2 linked regions of the Homo sapiens genome follow. The protein of the gene in region 2 interacts with the protein of the main gene of each other region in a pairwise test. Each region holds a gene or a part of one and is shown on either strand. Other genes may lie near its edges.

What was found.
Region 1: the proteins of BMS1 (region 2) and RCL1 interact in binary tests that used the Homo sapiens proteins (3 or more experiments, as listed by UniProt).

What each region holds. Positions count from the first base shown.
Region 1 is NC_000009.12:4,787,689-4,798,402, reverse strand, and holds the start of RCL1 (RNA 3'-terminal phosphate cyclase-like protein), read right to left. Parts: upstream 5,460-10,714; 5' UTR 5,312-5,459; coding exon 5,176-5,311; intron 1-5,175. UniProt on the Homo sapiens protein: As part of the small subunit (SSU) processome, it plays a role in 40S-ribosomal-subunit biogenesis in the early pre-rRNA processing steps at sites A0, A1 and A2 that are required for proper maturation of the 18S RNA.
Region 2 is NC_000010.11:42,777,255-42,788,079, reverse strand, and holds the start of BMS1 (ribosome biogenesis protein BMS1 homolog), read right to left. Parts: upstream 5,286-10,825; 5' UTR 5,250-5,285; exon of another isoform or gene 5,082-5,249; intron 3,719-5,081; 5' UTR 3,686-3,718; coding exon 3,510-3,685; intron 2,599-3,509; coding exon 2,408-2,598; intron 913-2,407; coding exon 833-912; intron 1-832. UniProt on the Homo sapiens protein: GTPase required for the synthesis of 40S ribosomal subunits and for processing of pre-ribosomal RNA (pre-rRNA) at sites A0, A1, and A2.

The sequences.
Region 1 (10,714 bases), on a different chromosome or scaffold from region 2:
CTGGGTAGTAGCAGTCCTGTCTTCTGACTCCTATGTCACTGCTCTTGTTCAAGTCCATTATTTCTGCTATTCCAACTTTAAACAATTATTCTGGTGGGATTCTCTTCCATTTAGACCTCACATTATACAGAGACTGTTAAACTGAACCCTGCAGGACACAGTCCTCATGAAATCCAGAGATAGAGGCACTTTGGACAGCTGCTTTATAATACTGATGAGGAACACCCAGGTCCATCACGCTGTGAAATGAGAGAGAACAGGTCCTTCAGGCAGGAGCTGGCCACATTCTCTTTCCAGCTCTGTCCCTCACTACACGTTTGTCTTCACCAACTATCTTACCTAACTACGGGTTGGCTTTTTTACCTTGAGTAAAACAGCAGCAACAAGAAAAAATATTTACTTCCTCTTCAATGAAAGGAAGAGTACAATGAGATAAACTTAATTGTTCATGTTCCTCAAAACGGAAGCATAAATTATACATGTGGCTGGACAATTATAATCACCAGCCCGGGACCATCCTTCTTTGGGGTTCAGATTCCTTTCAGTATTTACAACCCCTTTGCAATGGAAGGGGACAGTTTTAAGAGATTCAATGATTTGCCTGAAGTCACAGAGTTTGATCTGTGTCTCATTTGTTTCTAAATCCTTGTGTAGTCTTCTTGGTGTCACATGCTGCTATTCCTAATCATTAGGGATACAGGGAAAAGAAAAGGTTTAATTACTACTGTCAAGTAGGCCAGGGTTTTTCTACATCAGCACTACTGACATTTTGAATGGATAATTCTTTGTTGTGGGAGGCTGTCCTGTAGGATATTTAGCAGCACCCTTGGATTCTAACCACTAGAGGCCAGTAGCATTCCCCTCTGCCAAGCTGTGACAACCAAAAATGTCTCCAAATGCTCCCAAATGTCCCCCACTGAACAAAAGTGCCCCTGGTTGAAAACTACTGTGCTTTACATATAACATAGAAATACGTGGAAACAACCACCTAGGAGAAGAACTTTACAGAAGGCATAATTCTCTTCAAATATCTGAAAAATTTCCATATAGAAGCAGGAACGGATTTGGCATGCCAGGGAGCAGACCTATACCCAGTGGGTTCAAGCTACATAATAATAAAATCAGCTAACATTTATTCTTCCTATGTGCCAGGCACTGTTCAGTACACTTTGAAGTATTATTTCATTTAGTCCTCACAATAACCCTGTGAAGTCAGTAGTACTGGCCCCACTTTACAGGTGAAAAAGTTGAGGCTCAGAAGAGAATAGTTAAAATAATTTGCCCAAGGACCAAGAGCTAATAGCGAAAGGCAGAACTCGTACTCAAACCAAGGTCCAATACTGACCCCAAGCTCTTAATTGCCAAGTATTATGACCATGACAAATTAAGGATTTTACCTCAGTAAAATAAAGAAAATAAAGAACTTTTTGACTTAAAAACTGTTTCTTTCATATGGAGATTTCTCAAAGAACTAAAAATAGAACTACCATATGGCCCAGCAATTCCACTACTGGGTATCTACCCAGAGGAAAAGACATCATTATACAAAAAAGGCACCTGTACTTGTATGTTTATTGCAGCACTATTCACAATACCAAAGTGATGGAACTAACCTAAGTGTCCACCAATGGTTGACTAGATAAAGAAAATGTGGTATATATACACTATGGAATACTACACAGCCATAAAAAAGAATGAAATCAGGCTGGGCATGGTTATTCATGCCTGTAATCCCAGCAATTTGGAAGGCTGAGGCAGGACGACTGCTTGAGTCCAGGAGTTCAAGACCAGCCTCGGCAACATAGACAACACCCCATCTCTACAAAAAAAATTTTAAAAATCAACTAGATGCTGTGGTACACATCTGTAGTTCCAGCTACTCAGGAAGCTAACGTGAGAGGATCACCTGAGCCCAAGAGGTTGAGGCTACAGTGAGCCATGATCACACCACTGCACTCATGACAGAGTGAGACTCTGTCTCAAAAAAAAGAATGAAATAATGTCCTTTGCAACAACATGGAGCTAGAGGCCATTATCCTAAGAGAACTAATTCAGAAACAGAAAATCAAATACTCCATGTTCTTACTTATAAGTGGGAGCTGAACAATGGATACACATGGACTTAAACATGGAAATAACAAACATTGGGGACTGGAAAAGGAGGAAGATTGAGGGAGATTGAAAAATTACCTATTGGGTACGATGTTCACTATTTGGATAATGGGTACACCAGAAGCCCAGTCCCCACCAGTAGGCAATATATCCATGTAACAAACATGCACATGTACCCCCGACTCTAAAATAAAATTTCTTTAAAAAAAGAACTGTTTATTTTGCAAACAATGATTTCCGCAGCCACCATCTCAATCCTATCTGTCCAGATCAGGTCCAGAAAACCTGCCTTCCTTCGTAACTTTCAGGGAAGTGTCTGCTCTGAACTCCACTGAGCCCCTGTACAATACTCAATCCTTCCTACTTCAAGTTACTCAAACTTAGTAACATCCTACTTACATGACAAGCTCCATGAGAACAGGGGCAACCAGCTTCTCACATATATTACACTCACCCCCATACAAAGCCTTGCACATACTGTGGCTCAATAAACACTTTCTAAATAAATGTTCCTGAGGCCGAAAGCCTCCCATACTATCCCTACCCTCCAAAGCCCACACCATGAGGGATGTTTTAAGCAAGCACCTTGAAGAGATGTGATTCTTGCATTAGAACTGAAGATTTTATTGGATATGCTCTGAGTTTTTTCCAACTCTGAGAATCTGAGTTAGGAAAAGTCAGAAAGGGACAGATGACGGGCAACATAGGCTTCCGGCTACATCTTCAATCAAGCTACCAAGGACTCCCTTGATTATGACCAGAAATCATGTGTCAGGGACTACATCTATTTATGCGTGCACGTATATGTATATACACTTACATGTATGTGTATACATATACACATATACATGTATATCTGCAAATGCATATCTATCTCTCTGTTCCCTCTGTAAGAAATTAAGCAGACAGGCTGGGCGCAGCGGCTCACACCTGTAATCCCAGCACTCTGGGAGGCCAAGGCAGGCGGATCACCTGAGGTCAGCAGTTTCATACAGCCTGGCCAACATGGTGAAACCCCATCTCTACTAAAAATACTCTACTAAAAATTAGCTGGGCATGGTGGCAGGCACCTGTAATCCCAGCTACGAGGGAGGCTGAGGCAGGAGAATTGCAGGAACCCAGGAGGCGGAGGTTGCAGTGAGCCGAGATCGCACCACGGCACTCCAGCCTGGGAGACAGAGTAAGACTCTGTCTCAAAAAAAAAGAAAGAAATTAAGCAGACAAACATCTACAAGGTTTCTGAGGCCCTGAAGCCAGCGCAAGGATGTACAAATAACTAGGAGTCTCTTTCTTCCCCTGGTATATGAACGGGGTAAGGCAAATAATGCTCTACAGTAATGTTCCCCATAAAATACCAGCACACCTGCCAAGCAGTTCTACCTCCCTCAGGTATCAGCGTCTGACACCCTTTCAAGAAAGTGCCAAGTGGCCAAGCCCTGTTCTTGGAAGAAACGGGAGCTCATATGTGTGAGATGCTTTGAAGAGATGCTCACATACAGTGGAGGGGGAGAAGGAGAAGCATACTTTGGAACATTAAATATTAAATTGGAGGCCACCTGTCAATAGAAAAACTCTAAATAGAACTAGATTCATTTTAGAGAACCCAGGTTTCCAGGCTATACTTCCATTTCTCTGGAAAAAAAAAAAAAAGTTATGCCTACTTTTATACAAAGTAGAAGTCCATCTTCTTACCATATCCAGCTAGTGGCAAGTTCTCTGAGCTAACCTGAGGGTAAAGTGGATGGAGAGCTGGCTGAGAATGCCACACAGCAATCAAGCAAACACTTTGCCCAAGGGTCAAACTAAGTGGAACACTTGTTGACGGAAAAGTCGTGGCATAAACCATTTGTGGTCTCTCCCTAACTTTCTCAGTGTTTTTGAGCAGTAGAGAGAGGACAGGAACCACCAACACAAGTTTTTCCTACCATCACTAGGTTTCTCACCACTGTACCTGGGATATTCTGCTTCTTTCCTTCCTAACCTATCTCCGTCAATAGCATGGCATCTTCTGCCCTTTATGTGCAGCCAATCACCACCCAAGAGAGGCAGAGATCTAACTATCCAAAAAATGCATTCAGACAGATAAAACAAGAGCCAGTGCAAAATGAAACACATCAGCGCCGCTCAGGAAGCTTCCAGGACCAACCACAAACACTCTTTTTCAATTTACAGACAGGTTTTTTCCTTTTTCACCTGACTACTGACTCGCCCAACTTGGGATAACCACCAGTCAGAAGCTTTTAAATGCATGTATCTCATGCCAGGGGGCCAGGTGTAAACCAAGGCCAGTTGAAAACCGGCGCCATTTAATGAGATGTGGGTTTAAATGGGCCTATTTCTTTTTAACCTACCATTGCAGAGCAAGAAGTGAGCTTGGAAGCCTGCAGTTTAGCGATTGTCACCGACCCCTTTTCTAAAGTCAAGGCAATTAGGCCCATGACTGTTAAAAGTCTATCTCAAAGCTCCTGTCCTGCGCACATCAATCACAGTCACGGCTGAAAACAAACACAGAATTTTAAAAATTTCTTTATCCACACCCAAGGACAAGTGTGAGGGCAGCCGAGAAATCATGGCGACAGGAACAGCCGGTGTCCAAGGGGGCAGCTGCTTCTGAGAACTGCTTTGAGACAGGGCAGAGAACCAACCCAAGGTACTTTTCTCTCCCAATGTCTCTCCCCCGGCTCATTCACCATATTTCGGTCCAACAAACTGTTTTTCTCCTTTGAGAGGTTTATGGCGAGGGCAAGAGGGGCCGAAGGGACGCGAAGGGGCGACGCCAGGGATTTGTTGCTACACGTAAAGCTGGAAAACGTGCAGCTGTTTACTACCAGCGCCCCGGAGACGCCGAGCGCAGCTTGCAGCTGAGCGCTCCCCTCGGGCCCCGACCCCGCCTCCCCCACTGTGCCTGCCCCTCCGGCTTTGGAGGCGACGCGCCACCTGCCCTCCCCGACGCGCTCGCCGGACGCCGAGCCGCCCAACCAACACCGCGCGGGCCCCCACGGCATCAGCTCGGTCTCCCCTCAGCCCCCGCGCCCACGCCGCGCGCCGCCCACACCAAGTTACCTCGGAGGCCCGGGTTGTCGTCTCTGGCCCGAATCTTTCGGATTTTGACGGGGCGCCCGCTCAGGGTAGACAGGACCAGACGTTGGCGCAAGAAGTTGCACCCTGCGTAGCTGAGGGAGTGCGCCTGAGTCGCCATGTGCGCGCTCTCCGAAGAGACGTGAGCAGCCCGAGAGCGGCGACTTCGGACAGACGCGGGACTCGTGACTCCGATGGTGGTGGTGGCGGCGACACCGACGGCGGCGGCTCGGGCTGCCTCCAGCAGCCCAGACGCGTCCACGTGGTTTGGAACAGGAAGACGGAGAGACTAGACACCGGGTCAGAGGGGAGCGGGGCGGAGCCAGTGGCCACCTCCCCGCCTCCCCGCCCGACCGGGGCGGCCCCCGCTTCGGGCCACGCCGCTATTGGCCCGCGCCGGATCAGGGCGGTGCCCGCGCCGCGCCTCCATTGGCTTCCGCTGAAGCTGGGCGGTGCCCAAGCCGCGCTGCCATTGGTCCGTAGTGGAGCTGGGCGGTGCCCGGGCCCTGGCAACAGCGCGCGGCTGGAGGGAACGCGGGAGGATGGCCAGGGAACCCCGGCGCGGGAGTTGCCAGTCGGGGCAGTCTCCTCTGTGTACCTCCTGGCGTGGTAGCAAGGGGAGATGGCGGACTGAGATTGATGCCTACGACGTGCCGGATTCTTAGCATTACTACTTACGGCAACTACTGGGGTGAAGATGCTATTATCTACCCCTCCTCTTTCTTACTAAGAGAGACAACAAGGGTTGGTGCACTCACCCTATCGCAGGGATGCCGCTCAGCGCACTGCCGGCGCAGTCCCGCAGCTCCATGCTGTAACCCTGCAAGGTAGAGCCATCCTGTCCTACTCATGGATAAAGGCTCGAGGAATATTGCAAAGCTGACAGTGGCAGCCTATACTGAGACCCGAATCCTCCCACAGCAGGCCGTTGCTTATTTTATTGAGACACCTCTTTGCCCCTTTCTCACGGGTCCCTTCGTTTATCGTCATTGCGTTTCATGGCAATTCAGGCCCTCCTACCTCGCATGCTTCAAGATAGATAGTTGTAATAACTTCACACACACACACGCGCGCAATGCTTTTTCCCTCTTTCCCGTCCTCCTCCAATCCTGCACAAGAAAATCTTCCCAAACGTTGGATTATTTCACTTCTCTACTCAAAAACCTTCCAAAATGTACAGTTAACTAACAAATGACTACACAAGTAGAAGTCCGATATCATAGTAATGTGGGTTTGTAGCCATTCCTGGACAACACTCACCAAACCATGAGTCCCAGAATGCACGGGGGTTCGCGGGGGGAAGGGGGGCGGGGTATGATAGTGTCTGAAAGCGGTGGGAGTTTAAGATTAAGGGATGTAGCTAGCCTTATGTAGACAACAGTGTGTTATAAAGTGGAGTGGAGTGGCATGCTCATGACTCACTGCAGCCTCAACTTCCCGAGTTCTAGTAATCCTCCAACCTCAGCCTCCCCATTAGCTGGAACTACAGGTGTGCACCACCATGCTCAGCTAATTTTTGTATTTTGTATAGACATGGGTTTTTGCCATGTTACCCAGGCTGGTCTCAAACTTCTAACCTCAAGCGATTGGCCCACCTTGGCCTCACAAGTGTGAGCCACCACTCCCAGCCTTTAATCCATTTTTCTTTGATTTTTGTAAATGGCAAGAGATAGAGATCTAGTTTCACTCTTTTGCATATGGATATCCAATTTTCTCAGCATCATTTATTGAAGAGACTGTCCTTTCCCCAGAGTATGTTCTTGGCAACTTTGTCGAAAATGAGTTTACCGTAGCTGTGTGGATTTATCTCTGCGTTCTCCGCTCTGTTCTACTGATCTATGTGTCTGTTTTTATGCCAGTACCATGCCATTTTGTTTACTCTAGCTCTGTAGTATAATTTGAAGTCAGGTAATGTGATTCCTCCAGTTTTGTTCTTTTTGCTTAGGACAGGTTTGGCTATTCTGGGTCTTTTGTGGTTCCATATAATTTTTTTAATTTTTAATTTTTGTAGGTAGATGGTACATGTATATATGAGGTACGGGAGAAGTTTTGATACAGGCATGCAATGTGTGATAATCACATCCTGAAGGATAGGGTACTCATCCCCTCATGCATTTTATTCTTTGTGTTATTATACAAACAAAACAATTATACTGTTTTAGTTATTTTTAAATGAAAATTAAATTATTGTTGACTACAGACACCTTGTTGTGCTATCAAATAGTAGATCTTATTCTTTCTAATTTTTGTACACATTTATTATCCCCACCTGCCCCCCAACATCCCCACCCCCTCTATGTTTTCCAGTCTCTAGTAACCATCCTTCTACTCTCTATTTCCATGAGTTAAATTGTTTTGATTGTTTGATCCCACAAATAGGTGAGAACATGTGATGTTTTTCTTTCTGTGCCTGGCTTATTTCACTTAACATAATGATCTCCAGTTTCATCCATGTTGTTGCAAATGACAGGATTTCATTCTTTTTTATGGCTGAATAATACTATATTGTGTATATGTATCACATTTTCTTTATCCATTCATCTGTTGATGGACACTTTGACTGTTTTCAAATTTTAGCTATTGTGAAGAGTGCTGCAACAAACATGGGAGTGCAGATATTTCTTTGATATGCTGATTTCCTTTCTTTTGGGTATACACGCAGCAGTGGGATTGCTGAATCATATGGTAGCTCTATTTTTAGTTTTTTGAGGCACCTCCAAACTGTTCTCCATAGTGGTTGCACGAATTTACATTCCCACCAACAGTGTACAAGGGTTCCATTTTCTCCACATCCTCACCAGTATTTGTTATCGCCTGTCTTTTGAATATAAGCCATCTTAACTGGGATGAGATGATATCTCAAAATGAGTAGTTTGCAGATATGTTTTCTCACTCTTTGGGTTGTCTCTTCAGTTTGTTGATTGTTTCCTTTGCTGTGCAGAAGCTTTTTAACTTGATATGATCCCATTTTTGCTTTGGTTGCGTATGCTTGTGGGTTATTAATCAAGAAATTTTTGCCTAACCAATGTCCTAGAGATTTTCCCCAATATTTTCTGTAGCCATTTCATAGTTTGAGGTCTTAGATATAAGTCTTTAATCCATTTTGATTTGGTTTTTGTACACGGCAAGAGAAAGCAGTCTAGTTTTACTCTTCTGCATATGGATATCCAGGTCTCCCAGCACCATTTATTGAAGAGATTGTTTTTTCCCCAGTGTATGTTATTGGCACCTTTATTGAAAATGAGTTCACTGTAGGGTTATAGATTTGTTTTTGGGTTCTCTATTCTGTTCCACTGGTCCATTTGTCTGTTTTTATGCGAGTACCATGCCATTTTGGTTACTATAGTATTTTTTTTTAATTTTTCTTTTTTTTTTTTTTTTTTTTTGAGACAGAGTCTCACTCTGTCACCCAGGCTGGAGTGCAGTGGCATGATCTCAGCTCACTGCAACCTCCACCTCCTACGTTCAAGCGATTCTCATGTTTCAGCCTTCTGAGTAGCTGAGATTACAGGCATGCACCAACACATCCAGCTAATTGTAGTATAATTTGAAATCAGGTAATGTGATTCCTCCAGTTTTGTTCTTTTTCTTAGGATAGCTTTGGCTATTCTGGGTCTTTTGTGGTTTTATATAAATTTTAGGATTTTTTTTCTATATCTGTGAAGAATATTATTGGTATTTTAATAGAGACTGCTTTGGGTAGTATGGATATTTTACCAATGTTGATTCTTCCAACCTGTCAACATAAAATACCTTACTATTTTTTGTGGCCTCTTCAAAATCTTACATCAATATTTTATAGTTATCATTGTAGAGATCTTTCACTTCTTAAGTTCATTTCTAGGTATTTTATTTTCTTTTTAGCTATTGTAAATGGGATCACTTTCTTGATTTCTTTTTTGGATTGTTCATTGTTGGCATAGAGAAATACTACTGATTTTTGTGTGTTAATTTTGTATCCTGCAAATTTACTGAATTTGTTTATTAGTTCTAATATTTATTTGGTGGACTTTGGGTTTTTCTAAATATAAAATTATATCATCTAAAAACAAGGAAAATTTTTTCTTCTTTCTTTCCCCTCCCTCCCTCCCGTCCTTCCTTCCTTCCTTCCTTTTCTTTCTTTTCTTTCTTTCTTTTTTCTTTCCCCCCGCCTTTTTTTTTTTTTTTTTTTTTGAGACAGGATCTCACTCGGTCACCCAGGCTGGAGTGCAGTGGCATGATCATGGCTCACTGAAGCCTCAACGCCCCAGGCCCAAGTGATCCTCCCACTTCAGCCTCCCTGGTAGCTGGGACTACAGGCATGTACAGGCATGCTCCATCACACTCAGCTAATTTTTTAATTTTTTTGTAGAGATGATATTTCACTGTGTTGCCCATGCTTGTCTCAAAGCAATCTGCCTGCCTCGGCCTCCCAAAGTTCCGAGATTACAGGCATGAGCCACCCACACCCAAGGGTAATTAAATTTCTTCATTTCCTATTTGAATCCCCTTTATTTCTTTCGCTTGTCCAATTGCTGTAGCTGCAAACTTCCAGTACTATGTTGAATAAGAGTGGTGAAAGTGGGAATCCTTGTCATGTTCTGATCAAAGAAGAAAGGTGGCCAGTGTGGTGGCTCACACTTGTAATCCTAGCACTTTGGGAGGCTAAGGCGGGCAGATCACCTAAGGCTAGGAGTTTGAGACCAGCTTGGCCAACACGGTGAAACTCCATTTGGGTGTGGTAGCATGCACCTGTAATCCCAGCTACTGGTGAGGCTGAGACATGAGAATTGTTTGCATCTGGGAGGCAGAGGTTGCAGCGAGCTGAGATCGCACCACTGTACTCCAGGCTAGGTGACAGAGCAAGACTGTGTCTCAAAAAAAAAAAAAAAGATGAAAGGCTTTCAGTTTTTCCCCATTCAGTATGATATTAGCTGTGGGTATATCATATGTGGCTTTTATTATATTGAGGGATGTCTTTCTATACTCAGTATTGTTAGGGCTTTTATGAGGAAGCGATACTGGATTTTATCAAGTGCTTTTTCAGCATCAATTGAAATGATCATTTGATCATTTTTGTCCTTCATTCTCTTGCTATGATGTATTACATTACTTAATTTGCATATGTTGAACCACCCTTGCATCCCTGGGATGAATCACACTTGGTCATGATGAATGATCTTTTTAATGTGTTGTTGAATTCAGTTTCATTGAGAATTTTTGGATCAGTATTCATCAGAAACATTGGCTTGAAGTTTGCTTTATTTGATGTGTCTTTGTCTGTTTTTGGTATCAGGGTAGTACTGATCTCATAGAATGAGTTTGGAAGTATTCCCTTCTTCTCTATTTTTTGGAATAGTGTAAGTAGAATTGGTATTAGTTCTTCTTTAAATGTTTGGTAGAATTCAGCAGCAAAACCATCAGGTCCTGGGCTTTACTTTGCTGGGAGAGTGTTTATTAATTCTATATCATTACTTGTTATTGATTTGTTCAGCAGTGAAACCATCAGGTCCTGGGCTTTACTTTGCTGGGAGACTTTTTATTA
Region 2 (10,825 bases):
TGGGCCAAAGTATAAAATCTGTAGCTCTTTGTCACCAAACAGGTGTCTAGAAAAAACTAAATAAAAATGAAAAAATCAAGGTGTCTGTCACCCCACACTTCCTAATCAATATGGCTTATTTTTTTGCTAATTTGTATTTTATTTTTGCTAATTTAAAAGATAGTTAATAGACTATCAGAATAGTGAACACTATCATTTCCATAAATGCAAGAGCATTTACATTTTCCATACACTGAGGACTGTCTAGACTTTTTATTGATAAACTGACCACTTCTTCAGGGCAATTCATGTACTTACTTCAGCATTATCATTAAGGATGAAGGTTCTGGAACCATCAGGAACAAGGGTCCCAACTTCACACAAGTTACTTAACTGCTGGCAGGCTCTATTTCATCTTATGTAAACTACAGATAATACCTACTCACCTCAAGGGTGTATCAAGGGTTTATGTAAGCTAAATTTGTAGAAAGCAGTTAGCACAGTGCCAGGAAGAGTCCAAGAAGAAATGGTACTTACTATGATATATTTGTACGTATATATGTATACATATTAATGAGCTCTTATTAGTTGTGTTCATTAAAGGTTTTCTCCATCCTGTGATTTGCTTTTAGATTTTGGAACACATTTCATTGTGCACATTCCATTTTTATTATTAACATAACAACATTTATTACCATAATTATCATCAATTCAATCATATCTACCGTATCACTGATGATGACCATGATTCTTTTAATAATTATAAGACTCTCTTCCCTTCATCACGGGGTAAATAACCTATCACAATGCTGTAAGTCTCCATCAGCACCCCAGGCTGCCCCTGCTCACTTACCAGATCTGCTACTTTAGCCAGATCAATCATCATGTTAATGTCACACCCACATTCAATAATGGTGAGTCTGCGCTTTTTACCTATAAGTGAAAAGATGAAAATTTTACTTTAAAAAGACCCTGAAAAAACTCTAACCATCAACTCTTAATTTTCATTTTTTAACTGCATCCAGTAAAACATCATATACATTTACAGGAGCATACAAGAAGTTCATTTTTACAGGCAAAAACTGATAAAATAAAATAAATTCCATTCTGTTTTTCTTGCTGTGTTCTAAATTTAAATAACATCAAAAGTCTACCCAGATGAATAAAAGTGCTCAAAAAGGGAAAATTCTGACTGCACAGACTCCATGATAACCATGATCCTGCTGTTCAGCTGCAGGCCCAATGTCTTTGCCTCTATCAAAACTTCCCGTATTCCCACTAGAGCTACAAACATCCTCAAACATAATGCAACAGAATATTCATAACAATAATTACTTCTAAATTAAGGTAAAAATAAAACAGTCAAGAAAATATGGGCTGGGCACAGTAGCTCTCGCCTGTAGTCCCAGCAACTTGGGAGGCCAAGGCAGGCGGATCCCTTGAGCCCAGGAGTTTTGAGACCAGCCTGGGCCATATGGGGAAACCCCATCTCTACAGAAAAAAAAAAAAAAGGAAAAAAAAGAAAAATTAGCCAGGCGTGGTGGCATACACTACTCAGGAGGCTAAGGTAGGAGGAATGCTTGAACCTGGGAGGTAGAGGCTGCAGTGAGCCGTAATCACACCACTGCACTCCAGCCTGTACCACAGAGTAAGACTCTGTCTCAAAAAAGGGAAAAGAAAATATGGATGCTCCAAAGATAAAGAAAAGCCTCAATCCAACTATATTATTGCAATAACAAGAGATTTCAGAGTGTACATTGCCATTCTACCACTGGAAGTTTGTTTCATTTTCCCTCAAACTCGGAAAGGTCACCATCTCCCAAAGCAGACAATTCTCACAGGAAAAAGAGAAAACTCGCACTTCCACCAGAATGTGGCTTCATAAGGCAAGCATATGCACCTGGCACATAGGAGGTGCGTGCTATCTGTTAAATGATGTGTTCACGGTGACTAGGCCTGCTAGGCCCTTCCAAGGAACATGTTTGGCAAAGCCAAAGAGCAGTCAGGATAAGACATAGTGAACATTATCATTTCTCATACAAAAAATGGAGGAGGAAACCAGGAAGAAAAGGAAAGCATCACCTTAAGAGGCTGGACCACACATCCTTCTACACGGAGGAAGAGGACTGTGGCTGGTGTCGCAATCGAGCAGCAAAGCTTGATTTTCCAGCCCGAGTGCTGGGTTCGAGTATCTTCCTGCCTTGGAACCTCCCAGAGTGCTGGGAGGAAATGTGAACATTATCACATCCTTATCTCTGGGAACTTACCCTTTTCTGAAGCTATAGCCAACTTAGTAATACTAAGTATAAGAGAAGTCCCATGATATGACAATATTTAACATGTTCCACTCAAGAAAACAACAAACGCATGCATGTCCCTCAGATGACAACAGCCACGCCAACTCTGTGTCTGTGGTGGCATCTCCTACCTGACACAATCGTCACAGGGCCTCTGATCTCAGTCAACTTCTGCCGGGTAAAGTTCCGAATGAGGCATTGTATCAAAGTGCTCTTTCCAACTTTTGGAGGTCCCATCACCACTACCACTATTGGTGGGGGCTCTAGTGGAGTTCGATCAACCACTGGAATATGATGCTTTTTTGTCTTCAAATCCTGAGTCCTATTCATTAAAAAATAAACAAATAAATAAATAGTAAACTCATTTTCAAAATAGAGTAAAAGGTATCAACCTTATAAGTAGACTTTTTTGGTACACTTATAGCTATGAGTACTTTAGCACATTTTATAGAGAGTACAACAGACAATATATAAATATAATTAACTTGTCAATTATTAACTTGCTAACTTCTGGCCCCATCCAAATAATTGCTGTTCAATAAAGATGTAACAAGATGACTTCAATACTATAGAGAGCGAAAATTAAACACTCCTTAAATCTGACTGTTTTAAGAGTGATTTTAATAGTTTTTTAAAAAACCAAAAGGTAAATAGCGAGGCAGTACATCATAGCAGATAAGAGCAGAGGCGCTGGAGTTACATTTAGCTCTCCTACTTACTGGTTATATGATTGGAGGTAACTTGTTTTCTTGATCTCAGTTTTCTTACCCATAAAATGAGGGCAAGAATGATTCCTACTCTGGTAAGGCTGCTGGAAGGATTTAGTTGAATAATGTTTAAAGTACACTGCTAGGCATATCACAAGGGCTCACTAAATAAAGCTATGTTAGTATTAAATATTGTAATTTTTGTATTTTATATTACAACTATGTAAAACATACCTGGGGGGAAAAAGCACACTTATCACCATAGAAACAGTTTAAAATTTAGGAACAAACAAAGTCTATAAATTCTTGTATCCTGGGCAATAAACACTAACCAGTATGCAGATGCTGGAGGCAAGGCAGCTTCTATGGGAAAAGCTTCTCACGTTTTAGTGAAAGCCACACACCATGAATCTCCATGTCCTTTGGAGCTGGACTAGACTCGTGAATCCAAATGTCACCTGTGAGAGGCTCCTACTATTTAAAAAAAGAATCAATGGAAGAATGACCAGACCGTAGCCTAACATACCTGTGAAAGGATCGAGCCATCCGCACAGCAGACTGAACTGCAAAAGCTTTGGGATTTCTCTTCCGGGCATCTTCTTCGTCTCCTAGCTGGAGATCCTGCAGAAGCCGCTTCTTTTTCTTTGCAGCTTTGGGTCCACTGTTTTTCTTTCTGTGTTTCTTCTGGTCCTTAGCCTCCATAGTGGCTATTTACCAATAACAAGTAACTCTAACCTACAAGGAAGAAGGTTGGGGTAAGGAGATGGGAGAAGCATTTTACAATCCAGGCAATACCCAGGGAAAAACAGTAAATTTCATTTATTTCTTTATGAAGAGATGATGTATTTGTTCACTGAACAAGGGTAGAAACTGCTTAACCATCCCCAATTTCATTTCTCTCTGTTATGCTATAAATTAGATGAGTTACCTCTCTTAAGATTACATTTTATGGTTAAGTTACTTTTTATTCATCTTAAGTGTCAACATCAGCAGTATCTATTTCTGCAAGGATAGAAATATACTATATCTGTACTTTTCAGCCATTTAGCCATTAGCCACATGTGGTTACTTACAATATACTTAGGGAAACTGAAAAAATGAGTTTTTAATTAATTTCATTCTAACTCCAAATAGTCACATGTGGCTACCATACTGGACAGCTCAGACCCAGGTATCAACTGGACTGATGAAGTGGTTTCCTAACTTAAACTAAAACTTAAATTTTAATAAAAAAATGTGAAACGTTTTTATGAACCTCCAATATGATCGCAGTATTACTTTTAGTACCTGTTGACTCTGTAAAACTCCTAAATTACAACTTATCTACATACATTTGAAAAATAGAAATAGCTGTACGTGTGAGATAGGACTGGTTCTAGATGACACCTGGAGACCCCATGAACTTACAGAGACCCTTCCAGTGATTTCTGAGTTACCTGGGAATCTGTGGCTAATAAATTGGCAATCACTGAATTAGTGAGTTATTTTAGGAAATCGGGCTGCATAAAATCTGACAGCTTGATTAAAAAAAAAAAGCGGAGCAGGATGCCATTTCATTCAATTAAGGTACTGTATTCATTCCGTTGAATAAATATTTGTGTCTGTCTACGATGTGCTAGGCACTGTGCCAGTAAGTGGATACAGCTATTATCTGACTTGCAGAGGAAATCCAAACTATTATCTTCCGCGCCACGCAATAAGGGCGACATTGGAAGGCTGCACAGGGTGCTACTGGAGCACGGAGGTGAGTCAGAGGCTTCCCACAGACACACACCAGCGGAAACAAAGTCTTTATGTATTACCATAATGTCAAGAACACTGGCCAGGAGTTAGGAGAGCTGGGCGCTAGGAACGCTTTGAAACCGAATAGCTGTGTGATTTCAGAGATTATGTTTCTTCTCTGCTATATTTTAGTTCAGCACTTGTACTAATGTTTCTCTCCCTGTCTTTCTTCTTGGTGGGAAAAGCACAATTTGGGGTCAACAGATCCAGCTCAGGTCTAAGTCTCCTACCGGGACCACGTCGCCAGGAAACGACGTCGCCCAGCCACCTTCCCTCCCCGTCTGGGCTCTCTGCAGGGATTCATCACGTCACTCACCCAACTACCCCAGGACACCTCCGCCAGATGAGAAATATGCCGCTCCTCGGGAGCAAAGATGACCCGGAGGACCGGGGGAGGACCTTCCCACACGCACGACTCGCGATCTTCCCAGTGCCCCAGAACCAGGGACCCCACCGCCGCCTACCCCAACCCGCAGCACCGAACCTGCTCGCAGCCGCGACTCCTCAGGTCAGCATGGACACCGCCGGAAACGGAAATTCACAGTCGCGCTGACTCGCCGGAGGGAAACAAGAAGGCAGAAAAAAGAGACCGGCATGGGGACGGCTTTCAGGGGAGAGCCTGAAGAAAGAGGGCTGAACAGCTGAGTGCGGACGCAGGCGCCGTCCGCGCAGTGCGTTCCACCGGGTCCAGGTCCTTCCAGATTCCTCTCCACCCCGCCCTCGGAATCCGCGGCCTCAACTTCCGCGGTGGGACTCCGGAGCAGCGTGCGCCGCGCTCGCCTGAGTTCTCGCCGAAGGCCAGGGCGGCTCTGCGGCCTGGCGCCGGTTAGTTAGTGTGGTGCAAAAGCCGGAAGGAGACACATTTGGTCCTGGCCTCCCGGCAGTCACCGTGCCAAGGACGAATGGACTATCGCTTGATTTGGAGTACACTTCCTCCTCTTTAAAGATTACAGATGAGGGGGATCTCGCGTTCTGGGGTGCCCTAAAGCCCTCTTTTGGCAGGGCGCAGTGGCTCACGCCTGTAATCCCTACACTTTGGGAAGCCGAGGAGGGAGGATTGCTTGAGCCCAGGAATTCAAGACAAGCCTGGGCAACATAGGGAGCCTACCTCTCTCTCTTAAAAAAAAAAAAAAAAAAAATTAGCCGGCATCGTGCCGGGCGCCTGTGGTGCTTGTGGTCCCAGCTACTCTGGAGGCTGAGGTGGGAGGATCGCTTGATCCCAGGAGGCGGAGTCTGCAGTGAACTGAGATGAGCCACTGGACTTCAGCCTGGGCAACAGAGCAAGACACTGTCTCTAAGAAAAATAAATAACATAAGGCCCTCTTTTGCCAGGACCAACAAACCGTGAGGGCAGGGACAAACTGACCCAGCCTAAACTGCCTCGCCCTCCCTAAACCCGGGAAAGGGGCTTTACCTGAGTGAACGTAGCATCTTGCCGTTTTCTTACTGCACAGCTTTACCTTCCCAGGGATCCGCCCATTGCCACCTGAGGAAATGCCTTGGAGTCCATCTAATCCCCAGCCCAGCTACTTGGGAGCCTACAGAGCGTACATTGTCAGAGGATGCATCTTCCTTTAGTCTTGGAGGGTTTCTTTTCAATATGATCCCGCTGGTGCATTCAAGGCTCAATTCTACACCAAAAACTAGGCCCACTCCTGTCACGAGAACCCCAGGCGTCAGGTCTTCTCACAGGCACCTTGTTCTTGCCCTCAGCAGCCCCCAGGTATTCACTCTGCATATTCTAGATACTGGGTGCTGGACTTGGGAGGCTACCCACGTGGCACATGCTTCCCTTATCCCTGAAGAGCTTAGAGTGTTGTAACTTCTTCACACTACACCTCTTACTTCTTGAAGATTTCAGTATCCAGGTAGATAATCCTTCCAACATCCTTTTGGTCTCATGAAGCCCACTCCTGTCCTCTGCCCTACCTCAGCTTCCCCCTCCCTCCATGATCAGACCTTAGACCTTGTCAGGTCCAAGGACTGCAACCCCCACAGTATCCCACTCTGACCAGGTCTATCTATCCTCCTATCTGTCCAGGTCACTCCCTATACTGCCCTGAAACAAAACTCCTGCAACCTTACCAGCACCTCCAATCAAGATCTTACTACTTGTTCACTGTTTCTTCCTTTATGACCCTCTCTAGTGAGCCAGCTTAAACTCAATGGCCAACCATTCTCATTGATCCCTTGCACACCTCCTCAACTCATGCACCTCCCTGTCATCTCCTATCTGCTTGGTAAGATGGGAGCCCTGGATAAACCCAGCTCTCCATCTATTCCATGCCACGACGATGCAACTAAACATGGCTGGAGGAAAACAGGACCATGCCAGCCGTCCTCACTTTAATCATTCTTTGCCTGGTCTATTCAATCTCCCATTGTTCCAAGTGAGTATTTCGCACTTCCTCCTCTCTGTTCAATCCTTCCCACTGCCTCTCCCTTCCTTGCCTCCTGCTTTGCTAAGAGAATAGAAGTGGTAAAAGTCTTCCACAGACTCCCACGTCCACCTCCACCCATCCGCCTCTTATTGCCTCCCTGTGACTGTGGATGAACAACTGCTAGGTCCACCCAAAGAATCCTGCACTGGACTGCTGGATCCCATCATCTCTTACTGCTCCAGGGTGTCACTCCAGCCAGCCTATCCTCTCTGCAACATCAGCAATATTTTCCTTTCTACTGGACTCTTCTCATCGTCACATAACATGCAGCTATTTCTCTCATCTTCAAAACAAAGAAATTACTCGACCCTATTTCCTATACCAGGACCTGCACCTTTTCTATGTTCCCCTTTGCAGCAAAACTTCACAAAAGAACAGTCAATACATACTCTGGCCCCTCTCCTATTCACTTTGATTCACTTGTCTCACAGGACTCCACCTGCAGCCCTGGATGCTCTTTCTCAGCTGCTTTTGCTGGTTCCCCTGCTCTCACCTGTTTAAATTAGAGTGAGGCCATAGGTTTCGGGCTTCAGTTTTCTTTTCTTCTGTGTCTATACTTATTCCCTGGATGATCTAATTCTGTCTCAGTTTTATATGCCATCTGTATCAGTTATTGATATGTTTTGGGTCTGTCCCTGCCCAAATTTCGTGTGGAATTGTAATCCCCAATGTTGGAGGTGGGGCCTGGTGGGAGGTGATTGGATCATGGGAGCAGAGTCTTCATGAAAGGTTTAGCACCATTCATCTAGTGCTGTTCTCATGATAGAGTTCTCACAAGATCTGGTTGTTAAAAAGTGTGTAGCACCTCCCCCCACCACCTTTTCCTGCTCCAGCCATGTAAGACATGCCTGCTTCTCCTTCACCTTCCACCATGATTGAAAGTTTCCTGAGGCCTCCGCAGAAGCTGTCATGCTTCCTGTACAGCCTGCAGAATCGTGAGCCAATTAAACCTCTTTTCTTATAAATTGCCTAGTCTCAGGTACTTCTTCATAGCAGTGAGAGAACGGACTAATACAGTTATCAATTTATTGCATCTCTGCTACAAACTCATTCTTCATTGCCTGCTCTGCAAAAATGGAACTGGGCCATTTAAATATTTTCCTCTGACATTATGTTAGGTTTTGTCAGTAGAGAGCAATGGAGAGACTTTGTGGGCGAAAGCAGTCTTTGTTCCTGGTTCTCCTATGCTCCCTGGCCTGGCTCCTGCAGGTGGGTGACTTCTCCAGAAACACAGTGGCCAGTGCCCAGCAGGTCCCACTCCCCTCACCAGCTCCAGGCAGTTTTGTTATAGAGTAACTCTTTTGAGACACCGCTCCTTTCCCCAGCACCTAAAGAAGTATTTCTAGTAAGTTCCAGTGGTATAGCACCAGTGACTCTCCTGACATGCAGAGGGCCATAGCTGGGTTCCTCTGATGAGGTGTAGGGGCAGTGCACTAGGAGGAGAGGACTCTCCTGGGCTCTCTACCTCAGCCCTAGGCTAGTGGTTGCTCCTCCTATACTTCCTACTAGTCTGTGCCTGGTTACTCCACTTCCCTGTTGCAATTAACACTTCTTTATATACATGTTTCCTGTTCAAATGACTGTGTAGCTTCTCTTTCCTAATTAGACTCTGACCAATACACTATCATTTGCCAACAACTCCCAAAGTTTTATCAATGACTCAGACCTCTAACCTGAACTCCAGCTGCCTCCATGACATATCCATTTGGATATTTAATAGACATTTCCAAAGTGATGTGCCAAACAGAACTCAGGATCTTCCCTCTCAAACCAACTGCTCAGCAGTCTTTTTTTTTTTTTTTTTTTTTTTTTTTTTTTTTTTTTTTTTGAGACGGAGTCTCGCTCTGTCGCCCAGGCTGGAGTGCAGTGGCGCGATCTCGGCTCACTGCAAGCTCCGCCTCCCGGGTTCACACCATTCTCCTGCCTCAGCCTCCCTAGTAGCTGGGACTACAGGCGCCCGCCACTACGCCCGGCTAATTTTTTGTATTTTTAGTAGAGACGGGGTTTCACCGTTTTAGCCGGGATGGTCTCGATCTCCTGACCTCGTGATCCGCCCGCCTCGGCCTCCCAAAGTGCTGGGACTACAGGCGTGAGCCACCGCGCCCGGCCATCAGCAGTCTTATAATCTCAGTTGATGGCAATTCCATCCATAAAGATGATTAGTCAAAATGCCTCCCACACACCTTTGTCTATTCGCTTTTTCTATCCTCCATTTCCAATCCATCAGAAAATTCCTGTTGACTCTACCTTTGAAGTACAACCAGAATCCAACCACTTGTCACTACTTCCACTGCTACCCCTTTGGGCTGTGCCCCATGCAGTCACACATGGATGACTGCGAAACCTTTCCCTTGGCCTCCCTGCTCCCACCTTTGCCCTTAAACAGTCAGTTTTCAATGAAGCAGCCAGAGGGCTCCTGTTAAAACATAAGGCACCATTGGTAATCTAAATTGGTAGAAATGCTTTGGAAATGGTTCAGCATGTCTATTATTACTGAGCATGCACTTACCTATGAGCCAGCAACAGAAGTAGATACAGAAAGGCACATAGGAATGTTTGGCTGGGCGTGGTGGCTCACGCCTGTAATCCCAGCACTTTGGGTGGCCAAGGAGGGCAGATCACGAGGTCAAGAGATCGAGACCATCCTGGCCAACATGATGAAACCCCATCTCTACTAAAAATACAAAAAATTAGCTGGGCTTGGTAGCACACACCTGTAGTCCCAGCTACTCGAGAGGCCAAGGCAGGAGGATCGCTTGAACCTGGGAGGCAGAGGTTGCAGTGAGCCGAGATTGCGCCACCGCACTACAGCCTGGCAACAGAACAAGACTCCGTCTAAAAATAAAAAAGGAATGTTCATAGCATTATCCAAACCGGGAAAAACCCAGACATCCACCAGCAAAAACCTAAAGACAAAACTGTAATATATATTTGCAATGGAAGGATATAGAACAATGAAAATAACCACCACATGCACCAACACAGAGGATACTTAGCGAAAGAAGCCAGACACAAAGAAGAACATACCAGATGATCCATTCAAAGCTTGAACCCAGGCAAAATTAACGTGTGGCAACAGAAGTGAAGATAATTGTGACTTTTGTGGAGGAGGGAATGTACGACTGGGTGAGGGCTGTTCTGTTGCTTGTGCTAGCTGATGAGTGTGTTTACTTTGTAACAATTTACTGAGCTTTAATGTGGCAAACTGTGCTCCTAGCTATTTAGCCAACTGATTTGAAACTTTTGTCCATACAAAAATATGTATAGCAGCTTTATTCATAACTACCCCAAAGTGAAGTCACTAAGATATCTTTAAGCAGATGAATGGATGAACACACTGTGGTATCCATACAATGAAAATCATTTGGCAATAAAAGGAAGTGAGCTATTGATTCACACTATAACATGGATGGATTTTAAATGCATTTTGCTAGTGAAAAGCCATCCCCAAAGGTTCTGTTTATATTACATTCCAGAAAATGAAAAACTGTAGGGATGGAAAACAGATTGGCAGTTGCCAGGGGCTGAGGAAAAGGACAGATTAACTACATAGAGGATGCACGAGAGAATTTTAAGGAGATGGAACTGTTCTGTATCATACTGAGGAAGTGCTTACATG